Linked DNA regions of Homo sapiens: region 1 is linked to region 2. The links come from fine-mapping of genetic effects on gene expression. A gene starts in region 2. The other region holds a variant in brackets. All regions are shown on one strand. Distances are from middle to middle. Region 1 holds the start of GSG1 (germ cell associated 1). Region 2 holds the start of FAM234B (family with sequence similarity 234 member B).

Evidence for each region. PIP is the estimated chance that this variant, and not a neighbour inherited with it, causes the effect.
Region 1: its variant is fine-mapped to the expression of FAM234B in monocytes after R848 (Quach 2016, PIP 0.95).

The regions. Positions count from the first base shown.
Region 1 is chr12:13,094,832-13,110,966 of GRCh38, reverse strand. It overlaps GSG1 (germ cell associated 1), which reads left to right and starts at 7,300. Exons shown (of 7, transcript NM_001080555.4): 1 at 7,300-7,502. The coding sequence starts at 7,455. It overlaps LOC105369666 (a long non-coding RNA gene), which reads right to left and starts at 9,537. Exons shown (of 2, transcript XR_931369.3): 1 at 9,227-9,537; 2 at 8,521-8,980. RefSeq lists silencers at 9,362-9,411, 9,692-9,921. The variant G/A (reference allele first, on the strand shown) is at 9,596.
Region 2 is chr12:13,034,698-13,050,832 of GRCh38, reverse strand. It overlaps FAM234B (family with sequence similarity 234 member B), which reads right to left and starts at 6,452. Exons shown (of 13, transcript NM_020853.2): 1 at 6,393-6,452. The coding sequence starts at 6,429.

The DNA of each region.
Region 1 (16,135 bases), 60 kb before region 2:
CCAACTTCAGCACACCCTCCATATTCACCAGTCAGCTCCTTGCTTTGTACAGTAAGCAAGAGTCTTCTCTTCTCATTCATTTATGTATATATTTATTTGCCTATCTATTTATCATCCATATGGACTCACAAAGTCCTGTTTTTTTCCAGTGGCTTATAATTTAATACTGTGTTTAATTATTTTGGTGCTTAAATTGTACCAGATTTAGCCAGTAGGAATCCCTTCAGGGGGCTGGTGTGTCCCTGTGAAATGTCCCCATCATTTTTTCATAGGCATTTCTTTACTTTTTGGCATATCAAGATGTTCCAGGTTCATCTTCTACCTGCCCTATCCAGGCTCTGGAATTGGACATTTATTTGAGGAGCTCTAGTTCCTCTTAGTATTAGAGACCAAGATTTGAGTGCTAGTTTTTCATTGCTACTGGGGAATCTTTCTTTCTAAGTCCTTTTAGTAAATAAAACTAGAAAAAAAATACTCATTTATTTACACATACGTATGCAAATATAATACGCATATATACATAGACAAATATACATGCATACGTGTTTATGTGTACATGCATGTATGTACATGTGTGTATTTCATATATAAATACAAGAAATCATGACTTCATACTGATGCCCCTAATTCCAATCGAACCCATAGGTTCCTTCTTGCCTTCCTCCATTCCATATGTTGATGTTCCTTTCCCATAATGAGAACTCTGGCTCTCAACAGCATTTATTCATGTGCCCAATCCCACAATACATCCAAAATAGTTCCACAATTGTTTCACAACCTACCCCAAGATGAATAAGGTATATACACTAAAAATAGCTCAGCAGACCAAGAATGAGTAATTAAATAGAATCAATAATTTAAAAAAACTGACAACCACAAAAAGCCCTGAACCAGATGGATTCATAGCCAAATTCTACCAGACATACAAAGAAGAGCTGGTACCAATCCTACTGAGACTATTCCAAAATATCAAGGAGGGGGGACTCCCCACTAGCTCATTCTACAAAACCAGTATCATCCTGATACCCAAATCTGACAAAGACACAACAAAAAAAGAAAACTATAGACCAATATCCCTGATTAACATGGATACAAAAATCCTTGAAAAAATACTAGCAAACTGAATCCAGCAGTACATCAAAAAGTTAATTCATCACAATCAAGTGGGCTTTATTCCTGGGATGCAAGGATGGCTCAACATACACAAATCAGTAAATGCGATACACCACATAAACATACTTAAAAACAAAAAACATATGATATGATCATCTCGATAGATTCAGAAAAAGCATTTGATAAAATCCAGCATCCTTCATGATAAAAACCTTCAACAAACTAGGCATCAAAGGAACGTACCTCAAAATAATAACAGCCACTTAAAACAAACCCACAGCCAACATAATACTGAATGGGAAACCCCTAAGAATGGGAACAAGACAAGAATATCCACTCTCACCACTCATATTCAACACATTACCCAAAGTCAGAGCAATCAGGCAAGAGAAAGAAATAAAAGGCATCCAACTAGGAAAAGAAGTTGTCAAACTATCTCTTTGCTGATAATATGAAACTATACCTAGAAAACCTTAAAGATTCTACCAAAAAACTCCTAGTCTTGGTAAACTTCTGCAAAGCCTTAGGATATAAAATCAATGCACAGGCTGGGCGTGGTGACTCATGCCTGTAATCCCAACACTTTGGGAGGCTCAGGTGGGCAGATCACTTGAGGTCAGGAGTTCAAGACCAGCCTCGCCAACATGGTGAAACCCCGTATCTACTAAAAATACAAAAATGAGCCGGGCATGGTGGTGCATGCTTGTAATCCCAGCTACCTGCAGGAGGCTAAGGCAGGAGAATAGCTTGAACCCAGGAGGCAGAGGCTGCAGTGAGCTGAGATCATGCCACTGCACTCCAGCCTGGGTGACAGAGCGAGACTCCGTCTCAAAAAAAAAAAAAAAAATCAACGCACAAAAATCAGTAACATTTCTATACACTGATAACATTCAAGTTGAGAACCAAATCAAGAAATCAAAAACACAATCCCATTTACAATAGCCATGCACACACACACACACACACACACACACACACAAACCTAGGAATACATCCAACCAAGGAGGTGAAAGATCTCTACAAAGAGAATTATAGAACACTGCTAAAATAAATTATAGACAACATAAACAAATGGGAAAGCATGCAGTGCTCATGGATTGGAATAATCAATATCATTAAAATCACCATACTGCCTAAAGCAGACTACAGATTCAATTCCCTATCAAACTACAACATTAATTTTTTCGGAATTAGAAAAAAACTGTTTCAAACTTCACATGGAATTAAAAAGGGCCCAAATAGCCAAGGCAATCCTAAGCAAAAAGAATAAAGCCAGAGACATCATACTTCCCAACTTCAAACTATACTGCAAGGCTACAGTAACCAAAACAGCATGGTACCTGGTACAAAACATGAACACATAGCAATGGAACAGAATAGAGACCCCTGAAACCAAGGTACATACCTACGACCAACTGATCTTCAACAAAGTCAACAAAATTAAACAATGGGGAAAGAATAACCTATTCAGTAAGTGGTGCTGGGAAACTGGCTAGCCATATGCGGAAGAACGAAACCAGACCCTATTTCTCACCATATACAAAAATTAACTCAAGATGGATTAAAGACTTAAATGTAAGACCTCGAGCTATAAAAATCCTAGAAAACCTAGGAAGTACTCTTCTAGACATTGGTCTAGGCAAAGAATTCATGGCTAAGTCCTCAAAATCAAACGCCACAGAAACAAAAATTGACAGTTGGGACCTAACTAAACTAAAAAGCTTCTGCACAGCAAAAGCAACTATCAACAGAGTAAACAGACAACCTACTTAAGGGGAGAAAATATTTGCAAACTATGCATCTGACAAACACCTAATATCCAGAATCTATAAGGAACTGAAACAAATCAACAAGAAAAAAAAACAAATAATTCCATTAAAAAGTGGGCAAAAGCATGAACAGACACTTCTAAAAGAAAACATACAAGCCACCAACCAACATATGAAAAAATTATCAAAATCACTAATTATCAGAGAGATGCAAATCAAAATCACAATGAGATACCATCTCACACCAATCAGAATGGCTATTACCAAAAAATCAAACAATAACAGATGTTAGCAAGGTTGTAGAGAAAAGAGAACGCCTATACACTGTTGCTGGGAATGCAAATTAGTTCAGCCCCTGTGGAAGGCAGTTTGGAAATTTCTCAAAGAACTAAAATTAGAAATACTATTCAACCCAGCAATCTCATTACTGGGTACACACTCAAAGGAAAATAAATCATTCTATCAAAAAGACACCTGCACTTGTATGTTTTTTGGGGTTTTGTATTATTTTGTTTTTTTTAAGAGAGTCTTGCTCTGATACACAGGCTGGAATGTAGTGGCATGATCATAGCTCACTGCAGCCTCAAACTCTTGGGCTCAAGCCATCCTCCCTCAGCTTCTCATATAGCTGGGATTACAGGCACGGGCCACCACGCCCAGCTGACTTGAGGGGTTTGTTTATTTTTTTCAGAGAGAGGGTCTCACTTTTCTGCCCAGGCTGGTTTTGAACTCTTGGCTTCAAGCAATCCTCCTGCCTCAGCCTCCCAAAGTGCTAGGATTACAGGTGTGAGCCATCTCACTCAGCCTGTACTTGTGTGTTTATCACAGCACTATTCACAATAGCAAACATACAGAATCAACCCAGCTGCCCATCAATGGTGGGTTAGATTCCTAAAATGTGGTACATATACACCCTGGAATACTATTAATACACAGCCATAAACAAGAAGGAAATCATGTCCTTTGCAGCAACATGGATGCAGGTGGAGGCCATTATTCTAAGCAAGTTAATGCAGAAACAGAAAACCAAATACAGCATATTTATAAGTGGGAGCTAAACATTGGGTACACATGGACACAAAAATGGGAACAATAAACACTGGGAATTCTAAAGGGGGTTAGGGAGAGAGGGCAGCAGGTATTGAAAAACTATCTATCGGATGCCATGTTCACTTATGTTCACTACTTGAGTGATGAAATCATTAGCAGCCCAAACCTCAGCATCACACAGTATACTCATGTAACAAGCCTGCACATGTACCCACTGAATCTAAAATAAAATAAATTTTTTACAGTTATAAATAAATAAAAAGAGTTCAGGAGTTGTTTGCAATTCTCCCCCACTCAACTTTACCCAAGACTGACCAGTAGATAGTCAAGCACTGTATTCAAGAGTTCCTTGGATTTGTTCTTTCTTTTGTTTTTTCCCTTTCTGCGTGGTTATAGTATTTATCTGAAATACCACTGAGGTCACTTGTTTCCATTTGCTTTTGGTTTCAGGCTTTTCTTTTCCTTCTCAACTTGTTATAATTTTATTTTCAAACATGTGGAACATTAGCATGCTCCCAAAAGTCAAAACTATATCATAAAAACTTCTCAGAGAAGTGTCACTCCTTCCAGAATCATTTCCATTCCCCACCCCCAGTAAACAACCAACTTTATTGTTTTCTGGTTTATCCTTCCTGAACTTCGTTTGGTAACAATAAGCAGATAGATGTACATTTTGTTTCCCCTCTTTTCTTTTTTACACAAAAGATAGTATACTATATATCCTCTTATGTACTTAGCATTCCATATCAGTTCATAGAAATCTCCCTTGTTTGCTTTGTTTTTTATAGCTGCATAGTACCTCATTGTGTGTATGAACCATAATTAATTCCACCAATTCTTATTTAGGTAGTTTCCATATTTTACAATTACAAATATGTTGTAATGAATAGCTTCATGCCTATTGTTGGAGGTGTATCTTCAGGGTAAATTTCTAGAAGTAGGATTTCTGGGTGATGGGATGCACATGCAGTTGTGTTAGATATTGCCAAATTCACCAAAGGGGTACACCATTTGGGATTCCCACTAGCAATGAGTGAGAGCGTCTGTTCCCCACAGCATCATCAACAGATTGCACTGTCAAACTTTATAATTTTGTCAGTCTGGTGGATGAGAAGTGATATTTCATTCTAGTTTTAAATTGCATTATGTTTACTATATGTGAAGTTGAACATTTTTTCATATATTTAGGGTCATTCATATGTCTCTCTCTCTCTCTCTCTCTTTTTTTTTTTTTTTTCTTTTTTTGAGGCAGTCTTGCGCTGTCACCCAGCATCGCCCAGGCTGGAGTTCAGTGGCAGGATCATGGCTCACTGCAGCCTCAACTTCCCGGGCTCAAGCAATCCTCCCACCTCGGTCTCCCAAGTAGCTGGGACTACAAGCGCTCACAACCTCGCCCAGCTAATTTTTGTACTTTTCGTAGCAATAAGGTTTCACTGTGTTGCCCAGGCTGGTCTTGAACTCCTGGGCTCAAGTTATCCTCCTGCCTCGGCCTCCTGACGTGCTGGGATTAAGCATCCGGCCATAATCTCATTTTTAAAATTCAGATCTCTAGTCCATCTAGAGTTTATTCTTGTATATGATTTTTAAATAAATATAATTTATATTTTTCTAAATGGCTATCTAGTTTATCCCAACAACATTTCTTAAAAAAATCATCTGTGCCCCAGTGATTACAGATATCACCTTTGTCCTATACTGGAAGTCTATACATAGCTGTGTTTATCTCTAGACTTTCTGTTCTCTTCCATTGGCCTGTTTGTCTAGTCATGCACCAGTACCACATTGTTTTTTTTTGGTTTTTTTGTTTTTTTTAATATACTTTAAGTTCTAGCGTACATGTGCACAACGTGCGGGTTTGTTACATATGTATACATGTGCCATGTTGTTTTAATCATAGAGGCTTTGTAGTATGCTTTATATCAATTAGGGCTAGCACCACCTCAGAGCTCTTCCTTTTCAGGGTTTTCCTAGCTAGTCTTGTGTATTTTTTTCCCATATAAACTTTAATATCAACTTGTGTTGGTCTTTTAAAATACTCATGGTTATTTGTATTAAATTTATAAATTAACTTATAACGGACATCTTGATCAATTTAAGATGTGCCAAAAATAAGGCATGTTGTTCCATTGGGGAAGTTATTGGCACTTCGAGATCCGATGTTCTCTCTTAGATACTTCCTTAGGTAGTTTAGGTCATTAAATAAAATAATAAATATTTCTTGAGCAGCTACTATGCCCTTGGCACTATATTAAGCACGATAGAAGTAAAAAACCAGATTCTGTCCTCAAGCAGCTTAGAATTTCACGAGAGAAACAGACTAACACACCAAAAGCAAAGCAGGCATGCTGTATGAGCAAAGAGGAAATGGGGAGTAAGGAGGGCTAGAGCCACAAGGTAGTGAGACTGGAATCATGTGCCCTGAGGTTGTGTAAGATTTAGGCAGGGCAGCAAGGAGAAGGAAGGGATCCCAGTGAGGGGAACCCTGGCAAAAGCTCAGAGGAGGACTGAGTGTGACAGGTTTCACAGGGCAGAGGGCCCCATCCAGACTGTTAGCTGGAATCCTGGATGAGGCCCTCTTCCAGTCTCCGAGAGTTATGCCTCCATATTAACAGTCCCCAAACACTAATTATGTATTCATTAAAATGATGTTAGTGAATGTTTGCTGGGTTTCCAGATACTAGCCCTTTAGAATGGTAATTTCTGTACATTGTTACCTTTTCAGGGAATGGCCTTGAGTTGTGCCATCCAATACAGTAGCTACTTGCCATGTGTGGCTGTGGAGCCCTTATGATATGGATAGTGCAACTGAGCAACTGAATTTCTAATTTTATGTAATTTGAATTCACTAAATTTTAATTTTAAAATGAAAGTAGTATAAAATATTTTTCATTAAACCCAACTTTATTGTGTGGGGAGGGCTACATTTTAAACATAGTATTGTATAACATATGATTGCTGTATCACAGTATGTGTGTCCAATTTACTTTTTTTAATGTGGCTACCAGAAAATTTTAAATGACATATGCTGCCCACATTGCATTTTGCTTTGACAGCACTGGTCTAGAGTCTCACAACTCAGTGTGGTCTGGCTGGACTCACGTGAGAGCCATCCCAGACTCTGCACTTGACTAAGTCAGGATCTGCACTTGACTAAGTTCCCCAGGTGAATCTTATGCACAATAAGATAAGCACTGATCTGGACGACCTCAGAAGACATCCAGCCACTGGTAGGTACCCAGCATGACCCCCCCCAATCCTTATGGGAGGAGGCTGAGGGAGCAACAGGGAGACCCCTGACTGCCGTTGTGACATCACAGAATAAACCCCACGGGTCACCCAACCCCGCCCTGGCTGGTGTCTGGCCCTCAGGACATCCTCTCCAATCCACCACACACCACCTTACCCCTCTGCTGGCAAGAGGGGACCTGATTCATCCTCACGCTAAACACTCATTCTACCCAACTGATTGAGACAGAACAGAAGATAAACTGAAACTTCTCTGCCTTCCCGCTGCAAGAGTGAATGAGCGATCCCTCTCAACTGACTCAAAATGTTTGCCTCACCCAGGAGGTAGGTACAGTGATTTTGAAATCTCATGAACATCTCATACACATATCTTTACTGCTGGATTTGTAACACAGGTTACACTAACTCATCAATTTCATGTATTTCACATGGTCACAGTAAAGAGCTTGGAAATGCACTATAGGGTTCTACAAAATGGAATGAAAATGTGTCACTCAGCCCAGTTTTCATAGATAAAACTGGTATGTCCATACCTTGGCCTATTACCTTTTCATCTTCCTTCATTAAAACTTCCATTTCTTCTTCCCTTGTCTCATCATCTTCCTTCTCCTTTCTGTTCCCAGGGCTCCCTATGCCTCTCCTTTTTTCCTTTCATCTGCATTATTCCCGTTGCCAAAATCTGGAGCCTGGTAAAGGCCCAGTAGCGGTGGCAACAATAGAGCTGTGTGTCACCCCAGTGAGCTGAAAGAGCAGACATCAAGCTCTATGCCAGAGAACAGTGGGGCATCCCCAAGGTCCTGCTGGAAGGCAGCTCTGATCTGGAACTGGGAAGGACAACACACAGTCAAGCTCTTTCTCGTCTCAGAGAATCCAGCAGAATCTTCAGGGATCCTTCCAGACCAGGAAGACTCTCACACTCTGCAGAGAAGTTGCGGCTTGTTTAGCATTTGACCTACATTCAGAAACGACCAGCCTCCCAACTTTCAGCTCTAAGGATTACTTAAAAAAACAAATGGTGTTCATTCTCAGATATCTTGCCTTTCTCAGGAGAGAAAAATGAAGCTTGCAATTAGCCAGCAAACTAGCACATACACAAACACACACACACGTACATACACTCCAACACAGGGAGCAATGTGGTATGTTGTTGACCAGCTGGAAGTTAGGATCTCAAAGGAAAGAACAGGATAACTTAAGAGGCACTTCTGGGACTGCAGAGCTGAGCTGGTGGTTCTGAAGAGCCATCGGAGTGTGGGTTCAGGCAGCTTCCCTAATTCAGAAGCAGCCCCAAGTGAATAGATGACAAAGAAGTGGATGTGAACATGACAGAAAAAGCCAGTCATGGCTTAGAATAAATTTTATTATTGTTCTTTATCAGTGGTTTTCCAGGAGAGACACAGAGGGAATATGGGAGCGTCTGGTTGCTAATATGTACCTGAGAAGTATAAAGTACACTTAATCCATTGCCTCAATCTGCAGGAGGTCCCATAAATCTGGCCTGCAATCTGTACATTTTGTTAAAGGTGACTGTGCCTTGGCTTTTACTGAGTGGCAGCCTGGTGATGAGTCAGGCGAACAGTCCTCAAAGATTGCCAGTGTTGACTTTACCATTTACTAGCTTTGTGGCCTTGAGCAAGTCAAACCCTCCGAATCGGAACCCTCACTTGTAGAATGGGGATGCCACGTCCCTTTCAGGCTGGTTGTGAGGATTAAGGAAGATGTCTGAAGGGTCTAGCAAGGTGTCTGCTGGTAGCACAGGTGCACTTCCCCTTCGTTTCTGCTTAGAGGCACTCTTCTTCTACCTGTTTTCGATTTTCACAGAACTAAGAAGGACAACTCTTTGCCCTCATTTACCCCTGAGGGTAAATTTAACCCTCTGGGAGGTTAAGTAACTTGGCCAAAATCCTCAGTGCAGTCGTGCATTGGGTCGTAAATAGAACTCGGATCTGCTGAGGGGTCTGGGTGGTGAAGTCCCGCCCTGGGGTCTTCCCAATGAGACGCAGACATCCCCTTCCCTTAGAACGGGAGCCTGGGACCCATAGCTTTACCGGGCAGAGGCAGGGAAATGCCTGACTTTGGACTCCAGCAGCTCGACACATCCCGAGCCCTGGCCCACCGGCCTGGGTGTAAGGAATCCCTCCGACTACCCAGTCTCTCCGCCCTCCCGCGCAGCCTCGCCAGGCGGCAGAGGGGACGCGCCTCAGGTGGCCTAGCGCCCCGGCCCAGCTCCGGGACACATGTGGCCCCGCCCTCCGCGGCTCGCCGGGTCCCTGGCCTGCCCTGGCAGTCCCTGCTCTCTGGGAGGGCCCCCGGGACACCGTTCTCAACCGACGGAGGAAGACCCAGAGGAAGAAACAGCCCGGGTACCCCCGCCCGACCCGGTCAGGAAGCCATGGGTGGTTGGCGGCCGCGGGGCG[G/A]GGCCTCGCAAACAATGCCAAACACGGCCGGCCTGTCGCCGCGGCAACGCGCCCCGCTGCTAGGCGACCGGGCGCCGTAGTAAACGGGAGAGACGGCGCGTTACTCATCAGGGTGGGAGGGCGCGCTCGGAAGTGGAGATGGCGCGGCCCAGGCACCCCCGAGAGGCCCCACCCGTTACGCCCCCGCCCCGCCCCGCGGTCCCCAAGCGCCCCCGGCCCCAGCCGGCCTGCTGGCGCCGTCACCCGCGCGTGAGCGATTGCCCCACAGGATGTGCAGATGTGGCTGCCCCTCTGATTCACTCCAGCTGCTTGGGGCCTGGAAGAAAGGCGGCTTCCTCTCCTGGAAATGACTGCATTAGCAAAAGTCCTCAAACAATTCCATTAAAAGGCGGAAAGGGAAAGACGAGAACGAGGCCCCGATACGCTTTTCCAGGGTCCTTCCCACTGAATTGAAGTGTTCCCAAAACTCGGGACCTACGTTAGGAAGACTAGAGTCATTTGATTGTGCGACCATTTGAGGTGATGTGGCCCCTTAAACGTGGTTACAGCTGAGAATAAATCCCGGAGCTAAGTGCCCTACAGTGATGTAGTCATTTTGAACACTAAGCACGGGCATTTTGGTGGCATTACTCTTCCCTTCCGGGCTGGGAAACAAATGTGAAAATGTCCCGTGTGAAGACCATCTTTGTCCTCATCAGTGAAAGAGTATAAGGTCAGGCACTGATGTAAACATTGCAGTTAGAGCAGCAAAAGCTCAGAAGTTTGGAGATACATTATCCAAAATGGCTCTAATCAGTAGGGGTCCACCCAGCTTGGAAAAGGACATAACATTTCCAATCTGTCACTGGTTTTTGAGCAATCTGTCTCCTGATCTCTGTGCACTAAAGATAATATACTATTTCATGAGATCATCACTGTTTTCTGCGCTTTGCTCATTTAAAAGCAGGAATGTTTCCACAGGTGAGAGGAAATGGATTGGCAGAGAATCTGTTTGATGAAACTCTGGGTGCATCTGCCTGGAAAGGCTTAGGGTGTGCCTGTGGACCCAGGGCTTCCTTTGTAGCTTCTCGCTGCTCTTACATACGTGAATCCAGAAGCGTCCTGTTTCCTTTAGCAACAGAAGGCTGTTTGGACACACTTCTTTATTCACATCTTCATTCAGGATTTCTAATTGTATCCATAAACCTTTTTGCATTACAAATCTCATTCATTCATTCATTCATTCATTCATTCATTCATAGATGTTAAAACACTGCTAGGCTCTGAGGATCAACAATGAATAAAACATAGCTGCTACTATATCAAGCAACTTAAAGTCAAATGAGCATGACAGACAAGTAAGCCATGTGATGAGTTACACGAGAGAGGCACATGCTAGGACATGCAGAAGCAAAGAACAGGGCCAGGGGCATGCATGGTCATCAGACCGGCGATAGCCGAAACATTTACAACCCACTCCAGCCTTTGTCTACTGAGTAACAGAAAGGAGCTAATGGCGCGTGGGTCAGAAATCTAGCTCCTGGGAGGACAGAGATACTCCTGCCAGGGAGGGCAAACAAACCTTTCCAGGAAGATGCCAGTATGGATGACATGAAGAAAAAACAAAAAAAAAAAAAAAAAACAAAAAAAAACACCGGATCCCTTAGCCCCAGGCCTTGGCATTAGAGAAGTGGTGTGGTATATAACCTGCTCTCCGGCTCAGCATTCACGCTTGTCATTTAATCACTTCTAACCTGCAGTGAACTCACAAAACAATAAATTGCATTCCCATTTACGAAGTATGTGTAGGTGCCCCAACACCACTGTTTTCTCTTGATGCACAGCCTAGTAAATGTGGTTCTGTCCAGTACAGGAAACAGTGACTGAGGACCTCAGCAAATATGGGTTAGTCCCCACTGTTGGCCTTGTGGTGTCATAAATGGTGAAGTGCATATATATTCCTGCGGAGGTCATCTTGGAATAGTCACAGTCCAACATGCCAGAGCTAAATACTGTTTTTAGGTGTGGAATCTTCGTGTCTGTGCTGAGTCATGAGCTTCTGAGCCGAACCTAATTATATTTATGTCACATTGACTAGCAATTACTTCTTCTGTTCTAAGAGAGGAAAAGGAAGAAAAAAATATTAACATGCCCAAATTACAATGAAAGGAAGTGAGTGGGATGCTGGGCTCTGATGTTTGTGGCCAGGCAGAGAAACTCATGTTTTGTCAAAAAGAGGAAATTAGACGTTGTGGCCCAGGGTCCTTGGGGAGGGGGAATCAAGACTGGTCACATTCAGCAGCCAGGCAGCCAAGTACACACACAAAATGCACAGCCTCCTAAGGGGTGGACCCAGGCTTTGTGGAGGCCTAAAATAATATAATTTCGGAGGCCCTCTTTAAGAAAAAGAGTACACAATTACAAGTGTAAATTAGGTAACAAGGTTTTAGAAGAGGTGGAGTGAGTAGGGGACATGGAAGCTGAAGTTTCATTAGCTTCACTCTAAATCCACCCCTGAGCCTCCTCATATAACACACTTAAGAGTCTGCCACTCCCATCCCCATTTCCCTGGAGAAGGCGAACTTCAGGCTATTAAGGCACAGGGGGTGCAGTTTATGAGCAGAGGCAATAAAAACCAAAGACATCAGGCCATGCCAAACAGTGACTCAAGCGGGCTATGAGAAGTGTCTGCAAGTATTTGAAGGGTGTAAGCACAGAGAGGGGAAAATAATTGTTCACTGTTCTGGGGTGGAAAGGGACTGAAGATACAATCAAGAAAAATGTGCACAAAACTCATCAGGAAACATTGGCTAACTGTATTTTCTGATACCGTGGAGTTGTATTTCCCATGGGAAGTATTTGAGGATCTACTGAGTCACTGAAGCTGGAACTGGCCGCCCAAAAAAAAAAAAAAAAAAAAAAAAAAAAAAAAAAAATGGGCTACATGAAACAATCCTACAAGACTCCTATAGGGAGTGGCTGGATGCCCCAAAGTTCAGCCTGAGCCCTGAATTCCATAGAGCTGACACACGGCATTCTGTAGATTAGCAGGCAGGGAGGATGCCAAATTAAAAATAAATAAATAAAAGGATCCTATGGGGAGGAGCAGCCACTTCCACCCACATTTTGCCGACTGGTGGGGGAAGCACGTGACGGAAGCGGAAACGACGAGGAGATAGCGCCACCCAGCGTTGTGATGAAACTACTAGCCAGGAAACCAACCGCCAATGCAACCGTAAAAAAAAAAAAAACAAAGAACACAAAATTCCTGCTTCTCCTTCCAAAGGAGAGTGAGTTCTGTCACAACAAATAAAGGGTTGTTTGGGCGATGCAGAAAATGTACCTGCACATGGCACATGTTTATCAAATTTGCTTGTTAACATCAGTCTGAGGAGAGCAGACATTACAGGTGACAAAAGCAGGATCCGAAGCAACTCATTTGGCTAGAACGTGGACTAATTCAAACAATTAAGTTCAGAAGAACCTGCCTTTGATTCCCTAAACGAACTGCACAAATATAGAATGGGAAAAACATGACCTCATGGCTAGTCTGGAAGAGGGGGAGGAACGGCCGGGGGCGGATACAGAGGGTTTTATTAAATGTAAGCCCAAAATGAGTTGAACAGGTGCCATTTTACATGAATTCCCTGGGTATATATTAAGAACTTTCTAAAATTACCAATTCCTGGGCCTCACCCAGAACTACTATGAAATCTCAGGGTGGGTCCAGGAATCGGCATATTTTCCAAACTTCCAAAGATTGTTCTGAACTCAGTTCATCAGAACTGAGAACGACTGCTCTAAAATGAAAGTGAGACCTTTGAGGAAGTTACATTTCAGACAAATGCAGTAGTTATAATGGAATACAGAAAGTGTTGTGAGAAGGCCGGGTGCAGTGGCTCACGCCTGTAATCCCAGCACTTTGGGAGGCCAAGGTGGGAGGATTGCTTGAGCCCAGGAGTTCGAGACCAGCCTGGACAACATAGTGAGACCCTGTCTCTATTAAAATTAAAAAAAAAAAATAAGTGTTGCAAGATATAGTGTGACAAGGATCATGAGGAGGGAGCTGTCTGTCCTAGGGAGAAAAGAAACATTTTCAAAGAGTGGATGACTTTTTAGACTAATTTCGTTGAAAGGCAGGCAATTCACCAGGTAAAAAGAGATTGAAGGCAGTCCAGGCAGAAGGAAGAGCATCAGCAAAGGCTTGGAGGATGAAAGTCCATGCAGGGTTTAGGGACTCACAAACAGCGGCAGAATCTCTTTCAACATTGGTGTCCCAATTAATTTGCACTTTTTTTTTTTAAAGATGGAGTCTCGTTCTGTGGCCCAGGTTGGAGTGCAGTGGCACAATCTCGGCTCACTGCAACCTCCATCTCCCAGGTTCAAGAGATTCTCCTGCTCAGCCTCCCAAGTAGTTGGGATTACAGGTGCCTGCCACAATGCCTGGCTAATTTTTTTGTATTTTTAAGTAGAGACAGGGTGTCACTATGTTGACCAAGCTGGTCTCGAACTCCTGACCTCAAGTGATCCACCTGCCTCAGCCTCCCAAAGTGCTGGGATTGCAGGCATGAACCATCGCGCCCAGCTATTTGTACAATTTTGAGGAGAGAAAGAACAACTTGTACTTCTGGCTGACTGGTGGCAAGAACATATGCAAACGACCCCTTACTGGTTTCTTAGATTACTTTTTCAGCATTTTAGAAACTCTTTTTTGAAATATAAAATATTGTCATTCCTTTGCCTGAAGGTTGGGAGAGGAATGGTAAATAGCCATGGCATTCCAGATCCTGGAATTCATTTATCTCCAATCCTATTCTATCTGCATCTTTGCCACATCCCCAGCCAACATTCTCACTCAGCATTCCATGTGTAGAGGGAGATACTTAATAGTACTTATTCTTTTTTTTTTTTTTTTTTTTGAGACAGAGTCTCACTCTGTCACCCAGGCTGGAGTGCAGTGGCGCAGTCTCGGCTCACTGCAAGCTCTGCCTTCCAGGTTCACACCATTCTCCTGCCTCAGCCTCCCGAGTAGCTGGGACTACAGGCACCCGCCACCAGGCCCGGCTAATTTTTTTGTGTTTTTAGTAGAGACGGGATTTCAGCATGTTAGCCAGGATGGTCTCAATCTCCTGACCTTGTGATCCGCCCACCTAGGCCTCCCAAAGTGCTGGGATTACAGGCGTGATCCACCACGCCCGGCAATAGTACTTATTCTAATGTTCTAACTGGAAGGTGGAGACCACCCATGGAACAAGGAAGCTATTTCCTGTTCATGGCTCCATGAGGCCCCGACATTGCAGAGAATAGAGTTTCTTCAAAGGGATAGGAAACCCTACTCGAGGGAAGGTAAACTTCTGCAGTGATGGTGACCTGCCATATCTTCGTCTGTCATAAATCCAAGCCCAATCCATTCACACCAGTTACCTAGGGAATGGCAGGCAGTGGAAACTAAACCATCATTTACTTTTTAAAGAAAATTTCCTCTGCAAATTGCAGGTCCTTGCTTCTTTGTGCTTAATCCCAGATCCCCATTGGCAAGCTCTCTGGTGTAATCTCCCAGAACAGCTGGGCCCTGATTGCCTTGTCAATTATTAAATGCCCGTGTTCCCTGTAAGGCAGCATTTAATCATGAGGCACTCCAAAGAATATGAGATAGAAGGGGAGGGGTAGGAGGAGAGGGAGGAGGGTAGGAAGACAGTTTGCATTCTTGCAACATTAAACCAAAGGGACTTGGAGTGCAGATGGCATCCTTCGGTTCTTCCAGACAAGCTGCAAGACGCTGACCATGGCCAAGGTAACCGGCTTCCCCTCCTATTGCTCAAAGGATGCAGTCTACAGCTATTTTGTACCTGGCTCTTTTAAGAAGTGCACCTGCCTCATCGATCTGTTGTCCTTCCTAGCCTATGCTAATTCTGGGTTACTCTGTTAATATATGCTGATGTAAGGGTTACTGATTATACATTGGCGCCTACGCACTTCCTAATGATCTAAGGGCCCAAGTGTTAGAGAAACCACTCTGTCCCTTTTCTAGCGAGTAAAGAGTCACCTTGGCATGGGATCTGTTGCATACACAAAGATAGAGTTGTTCTTATGGCCATTACTTCTTCAGGATCACTTTATGGAAACCATTGCAAAATTAGATTTGTTCTTCCAATTCAAGAGGTATCCCGACCCTAGCAGGAAAAGGCATGTTTGGGGAAAGGAGTAAAGTATGTGACAAAGGGCATGGTACTATAGGTGTTGGAGATAATTCTTGAAAATTCTTGAATGAGATGATCATTCGATATCAAGAAGATGATTTTTGAATGAGGTTCCTTGTGTCTCTCCCTGGTGGACACTCCTTCTGGAAGGAACCTCTTTGAGCTTCAGTCCAAGCTCTTTTTTATTCTTTGTTTCTCAAATTGCCTCTTCCTTAAATTGGTTGTCACCTTGGTGCCACAAAGTGGGTGTATCTTAGTATGGGGTTCGTTATTCTTTCTTATTTCTGAATAACCCCGAGAATAACTTGCAAATATATATAACTTGAAGTGGATTGAATGTGGAGTAAAAATCTTGCAAGTA
Region 2 (16,135 bases):
GTGTATTGAGTGCCTACTGTCCCAGGCACTGATCCAAGCATTTTGCATGTGTTAATTCATTTAATCCTCACATCAATCTTATATGGTAGATATTATTATTATTATTATTATCCCCCATTTTATCAACAAGAAAAATAAAATTAAAGAGGTAAAATGACTAAGATCACACAACTAGCCAAAAGAAAAGCCAGGATTCAAACCCAGGCATCTGACTGCAGAGTCCATTTGTTGTTCTAACCAACAAGTTATACTACCTCCCTTGTTCCACAAATATAGCCAAACCAGTAATTGCTTGCTTGGAAAGACAAAGTCTGGGGTCACAGAAGCACCAATGAGCCCCATTCAACACCACAGAATCAAATCCAAGTAGGACCGAATGAGGAAAAGTACAAGCTGACATCTTCACAAAAAGCACACTGTCAGGACGGCAGGTTAGAAAAGTAACTGGGCATAATCACTCTGACTGGGCCCAGTCAGGATACAGAAGCCAAACAATAGTTCAAAGAGGACAAGTTTAACATAAAAAAAATTACTAAGCAATGACAGGAGAGTAAACATAAAGATGAGAAGAGAACTCTAAAAGGTCCCCTAGGACTGAGAGACAATATCCAAGGCAGGACAAACTTGATATTTAAAAGGGCTCAGACCCACTTTCACAAATCAGTCAACAAAGGTGAATTTGGAGTTCAGATGCAATAAATTGATAACTGGCAAAACAAAGTCAATGAAGGAAATGCCAAACCAGCAGCCTACAGTCCTGTGCAAAGCCTCCTCCTAGCCAGGATAGAGACATCCACACAGGAAGAGTGCTGGTGGGGAGCCAGCTGACTTAACAGGCCTGGATTACATTCTTGCTTCCAACGGCCCTAGATCACCCCTTTGGCAATAGCCAGGCTGTCAAACAACCGCCCCATTTAAATATAAGTAATAATCAGAAAGGAGCCATGTTTAGTACTCATTCCACAAGATACCACAAAGCTCTACAAATATTCAAGAAAGAAGTAACAACGAAACATAACAAACAATTAGCTGAAAAACAAATGCTGGACAAATCACACCACAAGATGGAAGAAATAATGAACATATACTTCCCCATGGAGTCTGAGAAATTTAGGAAAATCGTCTTCTCTGAAATAAGCACTCAGGAAAACAATGGAAAAAATAACAAACCAGTTTTAGAAAAGAAATCCTTATTGGAATCAGCTAAAGGAACAGATATTGCTGAAAACAGAGTCAGAGACATAAAAAGAATAGACTAGTGAAAATCAAGCAAAATGTAATGGAAATAACTACAGCTGGCAGTTCTGAACACTTATCCTACACTCTTCCAAGCCCTTTTAATGTCTTATCTCAGACCAGGGGTGCTGGCTCACGCCTGTAATCCCAGCACTTTGGGAGGCCAAGGCGAGCAGATCACTTGAGGTCAGGACTTCAAGACCAGCCCGGCCAACGTGGCGAGACCCCGTCTCTACTGAAAATACAAAAATTTGCCACGTGTGGTGGCAGGCGCCTGTAACCCCAGCTACTCAGGAGGCTGAGGCATTAAAATTGCTTGAACCTGGGAGGCGGAGGTTAGAGTGAGTCGAGACCATGCCACTGCACTCCAGCCTGGGCGACAGAACAAGACTTTGTCTCAAAAAAAAATTCTTATCTCAGTAAATCTTCATAACAACTATGTGAGGTAGACACATTACTGTCTTCACTTTCAAGATGAGGAAGCTGAGGCTTGGAAGTTTAAGTAATTAGCGGATGTGGTTTGGCTCTGTGTCCCCACCCAAATCTCAACTTGAATTGTACTTCCATAATTCCCATGTGTTGTGGGAGGGACCCAGTGGGAGATAACTGAATCATGGGGGCAGTTTCTTCCGTACTGTTCTCATGGTAGTGAATAAGTCTCACGAGATCTGATGGTTTTACAAGGGGAACCCTGTTTCGCTTGGTTCTCATTCTCTCTTGCCGCCACCATGTAAGATGTGCCTTTTACCTTCCACCATGATTGTGAGGCCTCCCTAGGCACACAGAACTGTAAGACCATTAAACCTCTTTCTTTTATAAATTGCCTCGTCTCAAGTATGTCTTTATCAGCAGTGTGAAAACAGACTAATACATTGGCCCACAGATAAACAGCAAGTGATAGGTAACAATTCAAAACCAGTCTGGCTTCAAAGTCTGTACGGGCTACATATGATCCCGTGGAAAAAAAATCAAGGCTTTAAAAAGACTAGAAACAACGTGATAGATACTGACAACAAAGGTGAGCCAATATATGCATGACCGAAGAGGATAACAGAAAAGAGGATAACAGAAAAGAGGATAACAGAAAACAGAAAAGAACCAAAAGCAGTATTTTAAAGAGTTGCCAAAAAAAACTTCCTACAATAAAGACCTAAAACTGCAGAATAATGAGTACACAGAGTCCCAAGAAAAACTGATTCAGAAGAATCAATACTGAAATATATCCTAGTAAAGGCACAGGACTTCAAGGACAAAGAAGGAATCCTATAAGCAGCCAGGCCAAAGGAAAAAGAATCAAGTCACTAATGACAGGAACAAAAATCAGGCAAAGATTTCTCCATAGTAACATACACTATTAAAAGATAGCGGAGCAATATCTAAAAAGTCCTCAGAGAAAGAACATGCAATTTGATGTCCAAGCATTCTGACCCAGCCATGACATCACCGAAATATAAAGACAAGCACACAAGCGCTCTGAGTTATCATATTCCTATGCTTTCTTTACATCACAGAAGACTAGGGGCCAGTTCTTGGCCAGCCTTTTGAGAGGAATAAATACTTTTATACTAATTTTTTTTTCAGATACTGCAAAAACAAACCTCCGCTTAAGGATTACAGACTGCAAGTTTTGATTAGAGAAGTCTTTAATAATATTTTTTCTATCTATTTACAGAAAGACAATAAGAGAGCGTGAAGTAAAAGACGTCCACCAACTTGCCTTAAAAGAAGTCCACCAACTTGCCTTAAAAGAAGTCCACCAACTTGCCTTAAGTCCTACTCAGGCTGAGGAGCCAGGCGTCAAATCCAGCTTCCAAGCTTAGGGCACTTAGCACTCACTCGCTTCCTTGCTACTTTCAGCCACCACCCAAATTTTTAATGAATGAAAGGTTTTCAAAGAATAAGGGAGAGGGCACTGATTTCATAACAAATCATTATAAATGCGCTTTCCACAGCTATTGCTTTTCCTCTTAGGAAGACTGAAGATGCTGCTTAAATATAATAGGATTTCCAAAATGGTAGAGAGGAAAACACAAATAGGAAAGTGATGCAACTATACCATACCCAAACGTTTTCAGGAAATATACTAAAACATACACTATTCTATAACATATACTATACTATAGTATACACTATACTGTGCATATACTATACAATACACTCTACTGCAACTAAAGGTAAATAATTCATATCATGGGTTAGTTTACCCAAGGGCATATAAAGACTAAGTTACACAAACAAAATAAATCATAAAAAATCATTTTGCTCTGATATTCCCTCCAGTGTTTGACCTTCAAACTTTAAAATGGCCTAAGAAAAAAAATATATATATACTTAGGAGATAAGCTGCCCTACAGGCTTTATGAATGTCATATTGGCCTTCTGCTACTAATTAACCTCATTTTATGCATGTGAGCCAAACATCTTTCCTTCTTGAGCTTAGCGAAACTGCTCTTTCATAACAAGACTGCTGAGATCTGTCAATAGCTCACTATTACATCAAGCCTTCCTTCAGGTATCACATTCATAAATGAGCACACTGCTGATGACAACAGCTAACACTTACTGACTAATTAACATATGTCAGAGGTTACTAGACCTCCTAAGTACATCCATCTCCTTTACTATTTCAGATAACCCTAGGAGGTAAATATGTAGTAGAATGTGTGGCATAGAGTGAATGTTCCATAATAATGTTATTGTTACAGATGAGGAAACTAAAGCTTAAAGAGATTAAGTAACTAATTAGGTAAAGACTGGATTTGAACCCGAGCCTGTCTCATGCTCTCAGCCACCACTCCAACCTGACTTCCTCACACATGAAAACAGTGGGGATGTTGGGGCCAGACGCAGTGGCTCATGCCTGTAATCCCAGCACTTTGGGAGGCCAAGGCAGGCGATCACCTGAGGTCGGGAGTTCCAGACCAGCCTGACCAACATGGAGAAACCCTGTCTCTACTAAAAATACAAAATTAGCTGGGCATTGTGGTGCATGCCTGTAATCCCAGCTACTCGGGAGGTTGAGGCAGGAGAATTGCTTGAACCCAGGAGGCGGAGGTTGCGGTGAGCCGAGATCACACAATTGCACTCCAGCCTGGGCAAGAAGAGCAAAACTCCGTCTCAAAAAAACAAACAAACAAACAAAAAAACAAACAAAGAAAACAGTGGGGATGTTAACTACAGGAACATAACACAGTAGCCCAAACAGGACAGCAGTCTCAGGACCCCAATTACAGGGGAGCCAAAAAGAGCTATATAAAAACAACTTGTACCTAATGCAAAAACTAAAAATAGTATTTTGGGTGGAGGGAAGAAGAAAGGGCAAGAAGGAGACAAGGAAAAACGCAAGTGAACATTTTCTCCCATCCAAGTACTAACCAGGCCCGACCCTGCTTAGCTTCCGAGATCAGACGAGATCGGGCGCGTTCAGGGTGGTATGGCCGTAGACGCAAGTGAACATTTTCTTAAAACCCACATCACATGAAAGAACACATGCCTACTATATCTGGGCCTAAAAAAGCATCAAGCATACCTCAGGGCTCAGGGCCAAGCTGCCTGCCAAACAGGCCCATGGACTGGACTATGGGAACCCCAACCAGTTCCTACAACTAATACTCCAGGGAGTAATAACACCACAGCCTTGGGGCATAAGAACACAAAAGACCTCAAGAGTTGCTAAAGCAAGATTTTCATGCATTCTCATTCTTAGAGAATAACAATGACCTACACTGAAATTTTAAAAAAGGACTCTAAAAGAAAAAAAAAAAAGAAATAAAGCTAAATGTCTGACATCTTATTACCCCTCTGGGAGGACATCATTCTACACTAAGGATATACAAAGTAAAAAAGTAAAAAATTAATCCTGCAGGTAAAGGGCCACGTCTCTCCTTTAATTCCAGTGTTATGCACACATTCCAAGGCAGATGCTATCAGTGTTCCTTCCAATGTTCCAATGAGCCCATATTAAAAAAAATAATAATCTGTCTGAGGTCATGAAGTCTGGGGACAGAAACGCAAATTAATATCCAACCTAGCGTCATCCAAATGGCAAGGTTCGCTTCAGGGTAGCATACTGGAAGCTCCTTGAGAACAAGGACCCTGTAATCCCCCTGCAAGCTCAAACTAGCTATCCAACCAAAACCCAAATAGCCCTCTCTAGAGATAGCTATGAAAGCAACTGCTTTTCCCTCTAATACAAATTATCAGCAAATAAATGTTTATAGCTTAATGCTTAAAACTTACCTAGGTAGAGCCATCAATTTTTCTAAAGCCTAATGTTTAAAATTTACTTGGGTGGAATAAATATACTTTTATTTAAATATCAACTTTCTAACAGTACAATCCTACTCTGGAGGTTTAGGAGGAAAAAAAAAAAAAAAGGAAAAAAAACTTGGAGCTGCTGCCCGAAGTACTGAATCAGCTCTGGAAGTTGTCATCACCCCTAATGCTGCCTTAAAGAAGATTCCATACATTATCTTCAACTTATAGGTGCCAAATCATTTCCCATGCTTAATCTCGGCAGCTGGAGACTGACCAAGTGGAATCAAAAGCTCAGGATTTAGAGTGAAAAGACCCCTGACGTTCAAGGCCGAGCTTTCCCAATACTTGTGAGACCTTGGACAATTCACTTAGCCAAATAACTCTCATTTTCTCTTCTGTAAACTAGGAAGGGACGTAAATACCTGTCCCACCTGCCTCATGGATGCGTCGTTGCTGCCGTTAGGTGGAGGGGATGATCCACAGAGGGCCACTCGCCGTCCCGCCGCCCCCGCCCAGGTCCAGCCAAGACAGAAGGCGCCGGAGTCCCTGCGGTGCTGGGTCCGCGGCGCTCGGGAAGGATGCTCCTCTCGCCAGCCTCCCCTCGGGACAGCGGCGACCGGCGTTCTGACATTCCCCGCCGTAACACCTGCTCGGCGCCCTCTCCCCGCGCGTCTCCGGGTTCGCCCCGCGCCCGAGACCCCTGCCCCGCTGGGCGCCCCTCTCGCCCTCTGGTGGCACAGAGACCCCAGCCCCAAGGGACTGCACCCTCCTCGGCACCGGGCGCCTGCAGCTGAGTCTGGGTTGAGGCCAGGGCCCGACCGGCCTCGCCCCCAGAGCCTCGCCTCCCCTTATTCCAACACCGGCGGGGACTGGGTGGTCGCAAGCATGCGACTCCTTACCCGGCAGCTTGAGCGCCCTGGACAGCACGGTCGCCATGGCTGAGGCCCCGGTGCGCGTGCGCGCGCCCGCGTTCTGCCGGGAAGTGTAGTTCCGAGCGGCGGTGCGTGGGGCTGGGACCGGGAAAGGTGGGACCCGCTTGCTGGGGACAGAGCTGAGGGAGGCCAAGCCAGAGTACACGCTCCGCAGGCTTTTCTCCCACCCTACCTATGCAGGTCACCTCACCACTCTGAGTCTCACTTGCCTCGTCAGTGAAATGGGGAGAAAATACCCCGTAAGCTTGCAGTGAAAATGATTCGAAGGAGATATTTAAGGAGGTGTGGATTGTGCAATGTGCGTGGGCTTTGAAATCAGGCAGACTGGATTTGAATCCTGCCTGAATCACTTACTAGCTGGGCCATCTTGGGCAAGTCCCTTGGGGCGACTGAGCTGCCGCTGCTTTTTTTTAATTAAAGACATACTACCTACTTCACAAGCTTGCAATGAGAATTAAATGATACGACCTGTTTAAAACACACAGCACACAGTAGGCACCTAGTAAGAGTGTTTCTATTACGCTTCTTAGGTAGAAGTTGAAGTTTCCTGGAGCTCGAACCCTCATTTATTGCTCCCAGTTCTTTACAGGTGTCTACTCAGCACCCTACGCTGCAGCTTCTAGTTGAAGGGTGTAGAAGGAGGATCCGACTGTGTACATACATCCAATAGATGCAGCATCTCCAGCTCCTCAGATTTCAATGCTTGACCTTTAAGGCATCTGCACGCTCCCCGTAATCACCCCAGCTTTGCCTGAATGATTTTTGCGGAGAGCCCGATGCCCAGGAATTCCTCCTTCCTTGGCTCCCTGAGCTTTCCCCCACTTTGTCTTCCTTGTCCCTCTGGAAATCTCCTTCATCCCTCCATAACTTTTTTCCATTTTAACATAGGAACTGCAGCTTAGAATAGTATTTCTCAAATTTAATGTACTTTCTTTTCAATTAAAGAAAAAAATTCAAAGCAGCTGCCAAATGAATCAGGATCCTTACCTTTTACATAGAGAATACCTGTGTGTTCCTCTCTAGCTACTGAGTGGAATGTGAATACTTTTGCTGCCCAAACACCCACTGAGGTCACTGTGGAAAATGCAAACACCCAGGCCCTCTCTGACTTCTGAACTTGGCTTGCCTCAGGACCAGGCACAGTGGTGTAGAAGGAAGAACTGACTTGCTTCTTTCCCACACGCAAGTGATCAGCATTTTAGTGCAGGAATGCTAATACTGTGTTATCTTAGAACTGGAACAGATCCTAGAGGCTATCTAGTCCCACTCTCCTTGTTTTGTTTAAGAGAAAGCTGAGAAATAGAAAGGTAATGTAACTTCTGAGTGTCACAACAAAAGCTCCAAGATACATCTCATTTGCAGGCTGCCTAATTCCCGTGAGAAACTGCAGACAGGACTATCCTGTGGGAGTAATCTGAGAGTCTCCAGCAATCAGTCTCACCTCCTTTCTTCCCTTGGAAAAAAAAAATGTCATTGTCTCTGATAGAGCACAGGCTCTGGAGCCAGGAGCCAGGCCTCCCGAGATCAAATCCTGACTCTATCATTTCCTAGATGCCAGGCAGAGGGTTAGTTGCTTAATTTCTCCCCACCTCAATTTTCTCATCTGCAAAATGGGGACAAAACAGTTCCTAGTTTATAGAGTTCTCCTGAGAATTAAATATATATGTAGAAAGCACTTACAACAGTGCCTGGCACTTAGTGTTTTCTAAGTATTCACTCTTCTTTTATCGATAATTTCTTAATGTTTTAACAATTTAAAATTTGTAACTTAATAACAAATAATACATTTCATAGTAATTTAATGGTTTAGTAATGTATTTATTTATTAATTCTTTCAACATTCTACAATACCCAAAATTTCTACTGCTTGCCACTTCTCTGGAGGCATGATTAAAAAACATATTTTACATCTATGTAGGTCATCTAAAAGGAGCAACACTACAAGTCACAATGAGCCAGTAGTAGCTTGCCTGATATCAGTTTAACTAAATGGAACGCATTCCTGAAATATGAAGACTGAGAAAAATAACCTGTGAATGTGACAGGGATGTAGAAAAATGTTCATTTTAGTTGCAGAACAAGAACTTGAGTTTCTAGGAGAAAGTTTGGGTGGAAAGGAATAGCCAGGTCACACAGGATAGGAAGAAAGAAGAAAAATCTGTCTCCTTTTCTTAGTGAAAAGGTATATTCCGGGAGAGTACCTTCTTCTGTGATATAAATAAAATAAAGATGTATAAAGTTTTATTTAAAAACTTTGTCTCAGAACCAGGCACAGTGGCTTGTGCCTGCAATCCCAGCACTTTGAGAGGCTGAGGTGGGAGGATTACTGGAGTTGAGGAGTTGGAAGCTGCAGTGAACTGTGATTGAACCACTGTACTCCAACCTGGGCAACAGTATGAGACCCCTGTCTCAAAAACAAAACAAAACAAAAAAAAACTTTGCTTCAAACTGTGTAGTTACCCAAAGTGCCCATGTGCATGTACACACTTACATGTGTACATATAAACATGTGTCAGTGTACATACATCCAATAGATGCAGCATCTCCGGCTCCTCAGATTTCAATGCTTGACCTTTAAGGCATCTGCACACTCCCCATAATCACCCCAGCTTTGCCCGAATGATTTTTGCAGGGAGGCCGATGCCCAGGAATTCCTCCTTCCTTGGCTTCCTGAGCTTTCCTCCACTTTGTCTTCCTTGTCCCTCTAGAAATCTCTTTCATCCCTCCACAACTTTTTTCCATTTTAACATAGGAACTGCAGCTTAGAATAGTATTTCTCAAATTTAATGTACTTTCTTTTCAATTAAAGAAAAAAATTCAAAGCAGCTGCCAAATGAATCAGGATCCTTACCTTTTACATGGAGAATACCTGTGAGTTCCTTTCTAGCTACCTAGTGGAATGTGAATACCTTTGTTGTCCAAACACCCACTGAGGTCACTGTGGAAAATGCAAACACCCAGGCCCTCTCTGACTTCTGAACTTGGCTTGCCTTCCTGACAAGTACAAGAGTGACCGGGGCGGGATGCCTATGAACAGCCTAACCTGCCTGGTGGCTGTGCCTGCTTGAAGAAATTACTTTTCTGAAAAATCACAACTGAAGTCAGAAAATCACCTTCTATTTTTCCTACATTGATCTACAGTGAGAGTGTTCTTCCCCAACCTTCTCAAGTTCCCATAACTCATAGAGGGAACCCATATTGCTGGTTATTACCTTTGTAATACTCCAAGTACTGCTCAGAATCTCTAAGTGTCCTGCATGGGCTTATGATCAAATCTGACCATCTAATGCTTGCCTTTCCCTGGACAGTGTGGCCACTTCTGCTGGTCCTGACTATCCCCACTAGGTTTCACCACCTCTTCTTGGAACCAATGCCACTGTATCTACCAGCGGCCGCCTCCCTTCCTCCTTGGTTCCACTGCGCTGCCAGGCCCCTCAAAAACTGCCTCCTCTCAAAAACTGCTGCCTCTTCCTGTATCTCTCACTAAATGCCACCTCATATTTTAGTGCTCCTAAAATGTCAAAGCTGTGAGGGGCAAAGGAAACCAGGGAAGACTGCCTTTCTCTCCTTTTCATATTACACTTTATTAGGAAATTGCCAATGCTATGCTGCTACTCCTTCAGGTTGAATGCAGTATTTTCATTAGACAGAGCTTCTATTTTTACTTAGCAGGTCAACCAGAGCAAGATAATTGCTGTAACAAACAACCTCAAGATTCCAATGATTTTAGAGTGTAAAAATTTATTTCTGCCTATGTCAGAGTCAAGGTGGGGGTGCAAGTAGACTGCACTGGGGCTCTATTCCTCCCAGCCATTCAGGGACCCAGGCCCTTCTGTCTCCAGCTGCTTCATCCTTAGGGCCTCGGAGGCCTCCACTGGATCGTTTGCATCCCAGATCATGCAGGAAGTGTTATGGGCCAGGCCTGGAGCTGGTGTATGTGAATTCTGCCCACATTTATTAGGCTAGAATTCAGACAGAGAGTATGTGTGCCAGGAAGGTATGAGCCCAGGAAGAAAAGGAGACAAGTTTGGGGAGCATCTAGCCAGTGTCTGCGACACTGGTCACCCCATGCCTTTGTAAATTACAGACCTGAGTTCTTGAGTTCTTGATGGTAGGAAAGGGTTCAGGCGCCGCTCTCCTTAGGATTGCCTTTCTCCTGTAGGGACTAAGGCTTTGTTCCTGAGCTGAGTTTCTTGTAATGACTTATGGGTCTAAGCTGAAGCTCTCCCAGGAGGCTCCCCTCACTCCCTCTGCAGAGAGATTTCTGGAAGCCATTCCTACATCTATCAGCAGAGGATGGACAAATCTGAACTCCACTGACTTATCTGAAGCTGAGGGTAGTACCCTCTGCTACACTGGTGCCAAAAAGGGTCAGGAAGCAGTAATTAGTATGAGATTCGAAAAGCAAAAAGAAAATGTCATAGCAAATAGCAGTGAGGGCAGTGAGATTGAGAAAAGCGAAAGAGGTGCACAGCAGAGGACATTTAGGAGTTAAATGCAGATGTCAAGGAGCCTGTGAAATCAGTCTTGCGTGAGGATCAGGAAGTTTGAAACGCATGTGTACCAGTGGCATATTCACTTCTCTTCACAGAGAACTGAACTCTGCCCAGGAGTTGCATGGCTTGTCATGAAGACAAACAGGTTTATGTTCCCAGAATGTCCTTTGATAAAACACAAGGGCTCATCTCACTCAGATCATACAGACTTTTAGCCTATAAAACTTTCTAGAGTCTAGACTATAAAATGCTCTGTGGGCCCTGAAATTTAAACAAAGGCTTCTTCTTAACAAGCCTCTGGCTGGAACATATGTTTGAGAACAGTGTAATTAAGGACAGACACACCCAGGCCAAATGAGCTCTTGGTCCTCCCATCCCTCATTCTGGCATGTTCATGTCAACCGAAGGACCTGTAGTAGCAGTGTAGATGGTAACAGCCCCCATTCGCTGAGCACTCATCACCTATAAAAGAAGACAGTGTTTTGGAGTCTTGCCAGTCTTGATCAGCCCCTTCACTGCCTTCCAAAAGAAAATGCAATGGGCCAAGCATATTGTGACTTGGGGAGTTTTCCTGAAGATTCAAGGGGCCAGGGAAAGGGGTCAAGGCACATAGCATTTCCCCCCCCCCGCCGCCCCCCCAAAAAGCTCTGTTAGATGCATCTCTTCTCCCAGGTCTCTGCTGTTGGCCGCATCACTTCATCTTCCCCACCACTAAGACCTCTTGGGTCAGTTCCACTCTCAGGCTTTCTCCTCCTCCCTTATTTCCTGCCTTCTGCGGCCGTTAGCTTCAACAGGAGGCTATAGTCTCACCTCCATCCTATGGGCAGAACCTTTCCATGGAAGGTAAACTGAGATGGATAAAGCCATTTGCCCAAAGTGACACAATTCCCAAGGACTTGAAGAAGGATTTGAATGCAGGTTTTTCTGTCTTTTAATCACAAGCAGTGACGTCAGATACATGGCATGTGTGCTCCAATTTGTCTTTTCTTCTTCCAGGGCACATGTCACTCACCACACTCTGACAGTGGGCCCAGACATAGCTTCAGAATCCCTCACTCCGCTGTCCAGGGAGCCACTACCTATCAATTGGATTCAGCTCAAAAATTGAAAACTATTTGTAATCCCTGCCTCACTTATGGCATTGTAACCAAACTATAAACTCTTTTATAAAAGTACTTGATTCATGACAGATTTTAGTGCTGAATGTAGCTGATATTTGGCCAACATTTGTTCTCATTTGTTGGGAGTGCTAGCTGATTAGTCAGACATGTTCTGGTTAGTCAGGACCTATGCAGTACTGTGTTTTTCTTTCCTTTTTTTTTTTTTTATATAACCAAGATTTTTTTTTTTTTGAGACAAGGTCTTGTTCTGTAGTGTTTTTCATATTTAGATTACATCCCTGTTGAGACTTCTCAGTTCTGCATGTCTAGCTCACTGGTTAAGTCCTAAGTAATCCTCTAAAAGTCAGTAAATCAGGTTACCACTGGCTACGTGACTGAAGTTCTAGAATACTTCATTTTTCTGCACATCTTAAAGTATGTATTATAGGCAGCTGTGTGTTGTAATATGAATAGATATACCATATTAAATTTGAATATCTGTCTAATATTAAATTTGAATATGTGTATTATATTAAAACTCCCATACTAAATATTGAGTTCTTAAAGAATGGAAGTGAAATTTTGTATCTTTTTAGCCCTACATAATGCATAGCATATGGCCCCAGATATGTATTGGATAAATGTGAATGTAAGAATAAATAGCCATCACATTATGAGAAAAGAATAAAATCAATTTAGAAAAAAAAAAGGGGGAGGACCTTATTTATTTTATTTATTTATTTATTTTGAGACAAGGTCTGGCTCTATTGCCCAGGCTGGAGTGTGGTGGCACAATCTCAGCTCACTGCAACCTCTGCTTCCCAGGCTCTAGCAATCCTTCCCACTTCAGCCTCCTGAGTGCTGGGACTATAGGTATGCACCACCACACCCGGCTAATTTTTGTGTTTTTTGTAGAGATGGGGGTTTTGCCATGTTGCCCATGGTGGTCTTGAACTTGTGAGCTCAAGTGATCTGCCCGCCTTGGCCTCCCAAAGTGCTAGGATTACAAGTGTTAGCCACCTTGCCCAGCTGGACTTTATAATTAATAAAACTTTTTTCCTACGCTCATATTCCCTGCTTTGGATAATGCAAATATTCTCATGTTCTTTCACCACTCTTCTCCATACCAATGTCATAGTCCAAGCACCCAGGCTGCATGACTTGGGGAAACGCCGTCCCTCTGCATGTGAATCTCAGCAGTGTGCACATGCTCCACATATGCCTCATGGCTGTCACTTCTCCCCATCCCTCCTGTTAGGTGGACTCAGCATTTCTGGTAATTACCTCTGCCCATTTCATCTCTGCACATCTGTAAAGAATTATAAGGCCGGGTGCGGTGGCTCACGCCTGTAATCCCAGCACTTTGGGAGGCTGAGGCGGGCAGATTACCTGAGGTCAGGAGTTCAAGACCAGCCTGGCCAACATGGTGAAACCCCGTCTCTACTAAAAATACAAAATTAGCCAGGCATGGTGGCACACACCTGTAATCCCAGATACTCGGGAGGCTGAAGCAGGAGCATCACTTGAACCCAAGAAGAAGAAGTTGCCGTGAGCCCAGATCGCCCCATTGCACTCCATCCTGGGCAAAAAGAGTGAAACTCCATCTCAAAACAAAACAAAACAAAAAAAGGAATGGTAACACAAAATAGGAAAAGTTGACACTTAGTATCAAGTTACTGCTCCTGGAGTCCACTGACTACAGCCTTCTCATGAGGCCATTCCTAGCCAATGCTTTCAAGCAGCTGGATATAAAAGAGTAAACAAATCCTGTAAGCTCCTTCAAAGGCCTTGCAATCTAGAGGAGAGACAGACATTAAGCAAGCAATAAATAAATATATCATTACAAAGTGTGGCAAGCACAATGAAGGAAAAGAACCTAGTACTGTGAGAAAGAATCACGGAGACATCATAGATTAGTTTGGGGAGTGAGGAAATGAATAACTCACTGAGAAACTGATACTTAAGCTGACACCTGAAGAATGGGTAGAAGTTGTTCACGTAAAGGCTGAAGAACAGGACGTGTAAAGGTCGAGTCAGAAAAAAGCTTGATTCAGCCGGGCACGGTGGCTCACGCCTGTAATCCCAGCACTTTGGAAGGCCGAAGCGGGTGGATCACTTGAGATCAGGAGTTCGAGACCAGCCTGGCCAACATAGTGAAACCCTGTGCCTACTAAAAATACAAAAAATTAGCCAGGCGTGGTGGCACATGCCTGTAATCCCAGCTACTCGGGAGGCTAAGGCGCAAGAATTGCTTGAACCTGGGAGGCGGAGGTTGCAGTGAGCCAAGACTCCACCACTGCACTCCAGCCTGGGTGACAGAGACTCCATCTCAAAAAAAAAAAAGAAAGAAAGACAAAAGCTTCGTCCTATGGAGGAAACCAGTGTGCCTGAGAATAGTTTCAATGTGAGAAGCAAGAGGCAGACAGGAACCTGATCATGCAGGTGCCTTGACACTGAAGGACTTTAATTAGCAAAGTTGATGTGATCCAACTGGCTGCTATGCAGGGAATAAACTGGAGGAGAACAAGAATGGAGAGAGGAAGACCAGATAGTTACAAGCAAAAGGTCCTGGTGGTGGATTCAGTTACTCATGCTTTGTCTCCCAGACACAACGTGTGCACAAATTCTCACTTTTCACCTGCTTTCCTGTTCTGGCAAGAAAGAAAATATGGGTACTGTTTATTTTTCTCTTATTATACAAACTATTAAGACTAACAGAACTCCTGTTTCTACTCCTGCGAGCCTGACTGCAAATGAGACAGTCACCCATACCCACCCTGACACATTCCTGCCACCCCAACAGCTTGTCTTCCTGCAGCCTCCATCAGCTTTCACCTGGGGACTGAACCAAATCATATAGACACTGAGGTTCCCTGGCTCTCTTCTCCCCTGAGAGATGCCAGGGCTATCTAGAACCATTGCGTTAGGTGACAGCCCAATACATAATATATGGAAATAAACTCCCTCTAAATTGAGCTATCATGAAGGGAAGGTAAACAGCCATCAGTTGAGATATACTATATAAAAGTAAATTATCAGTCAGCTGTGGTGGCTGACACCTATAATCCCAGCACTCTGAGAGGCTGAGATGGGAGGATCACTTGAGGCCAGAAGTTCAAGACCAGCCTGGAAAACATAGGGAGATTTCCCACTCTACAAAAAATTTAAAAATTAGCTGGGCGTGGTAGTACACACCTGTAGCCCCAGGCTGAGGCAGGAGAATTGATTGAGCCCAGGAGGTCAAGGCTGCAGTGAGCCATGATTGCACCACTGCACTCCAGCCTGGGCAATAGAGCAAGAACCTGTCTCAAAATAAATAATAAATAAATAGGCCAGGCACGATGGCTCACGCCTATAATCCCAGAACTTTGGGAGGCCGAGGCAGGTGGATCATTTGAGGTCAGGAGTTGGATACCAGCCTGGCCAACGTGGTGAAACCCTGTCTCTACTAAAAATACAAAAATTAACTGGGCATGATGGTGGCATCTGTAATCCCAGCTACTTGGGAGGCTGAGATAGGAGAATTGCTTGAGTACAGGAGGTGAAAGTTGCAGTGAGCCAAGATCACGCCACTGCGCTCCAGCCTGGGTGACAGAGCAAGAATCCGTCTCAAAAAATAATAAATAAATAAATATAAAAATAAATTATCCCTAACACACAATCATGCTAAATACTATCCATAGTCTCACTCCTACAGAGTTAACACTTTCAGCTTTCTTTATTTGAAGCACATTGTTTAATGTAATTTTATGAATGACCTAAGAATTACTTCTTTTTTTTTTTTTTTTTTTTTTGAGACAAAGTCTTGCTGTGTCACCCAGGCTGGAGTGCAGTGGCGCAATCTCGGCTCACTGCAAGCTCCACCTTCCAGGTTCACGCCATTCTCCTGCCTCAGCCTCCCAAGTAGCTGGGACTACAGGCGCCCGCCACCACACCCAGCTAATTTTTTGTATTTTTAGTAGAAACAGGATTTCACTGTGTTAGCCAGCATGGTCTCGATCGCCTGACCTTGTGATCCGTCTGCCTAGGCCTCCGAAAATCCTGAGATTACAGGCGTGAGCCATCGCGCCCAGCCAAAAAATACTTCTTAAGTATTTTTCATTATAATCTTGCC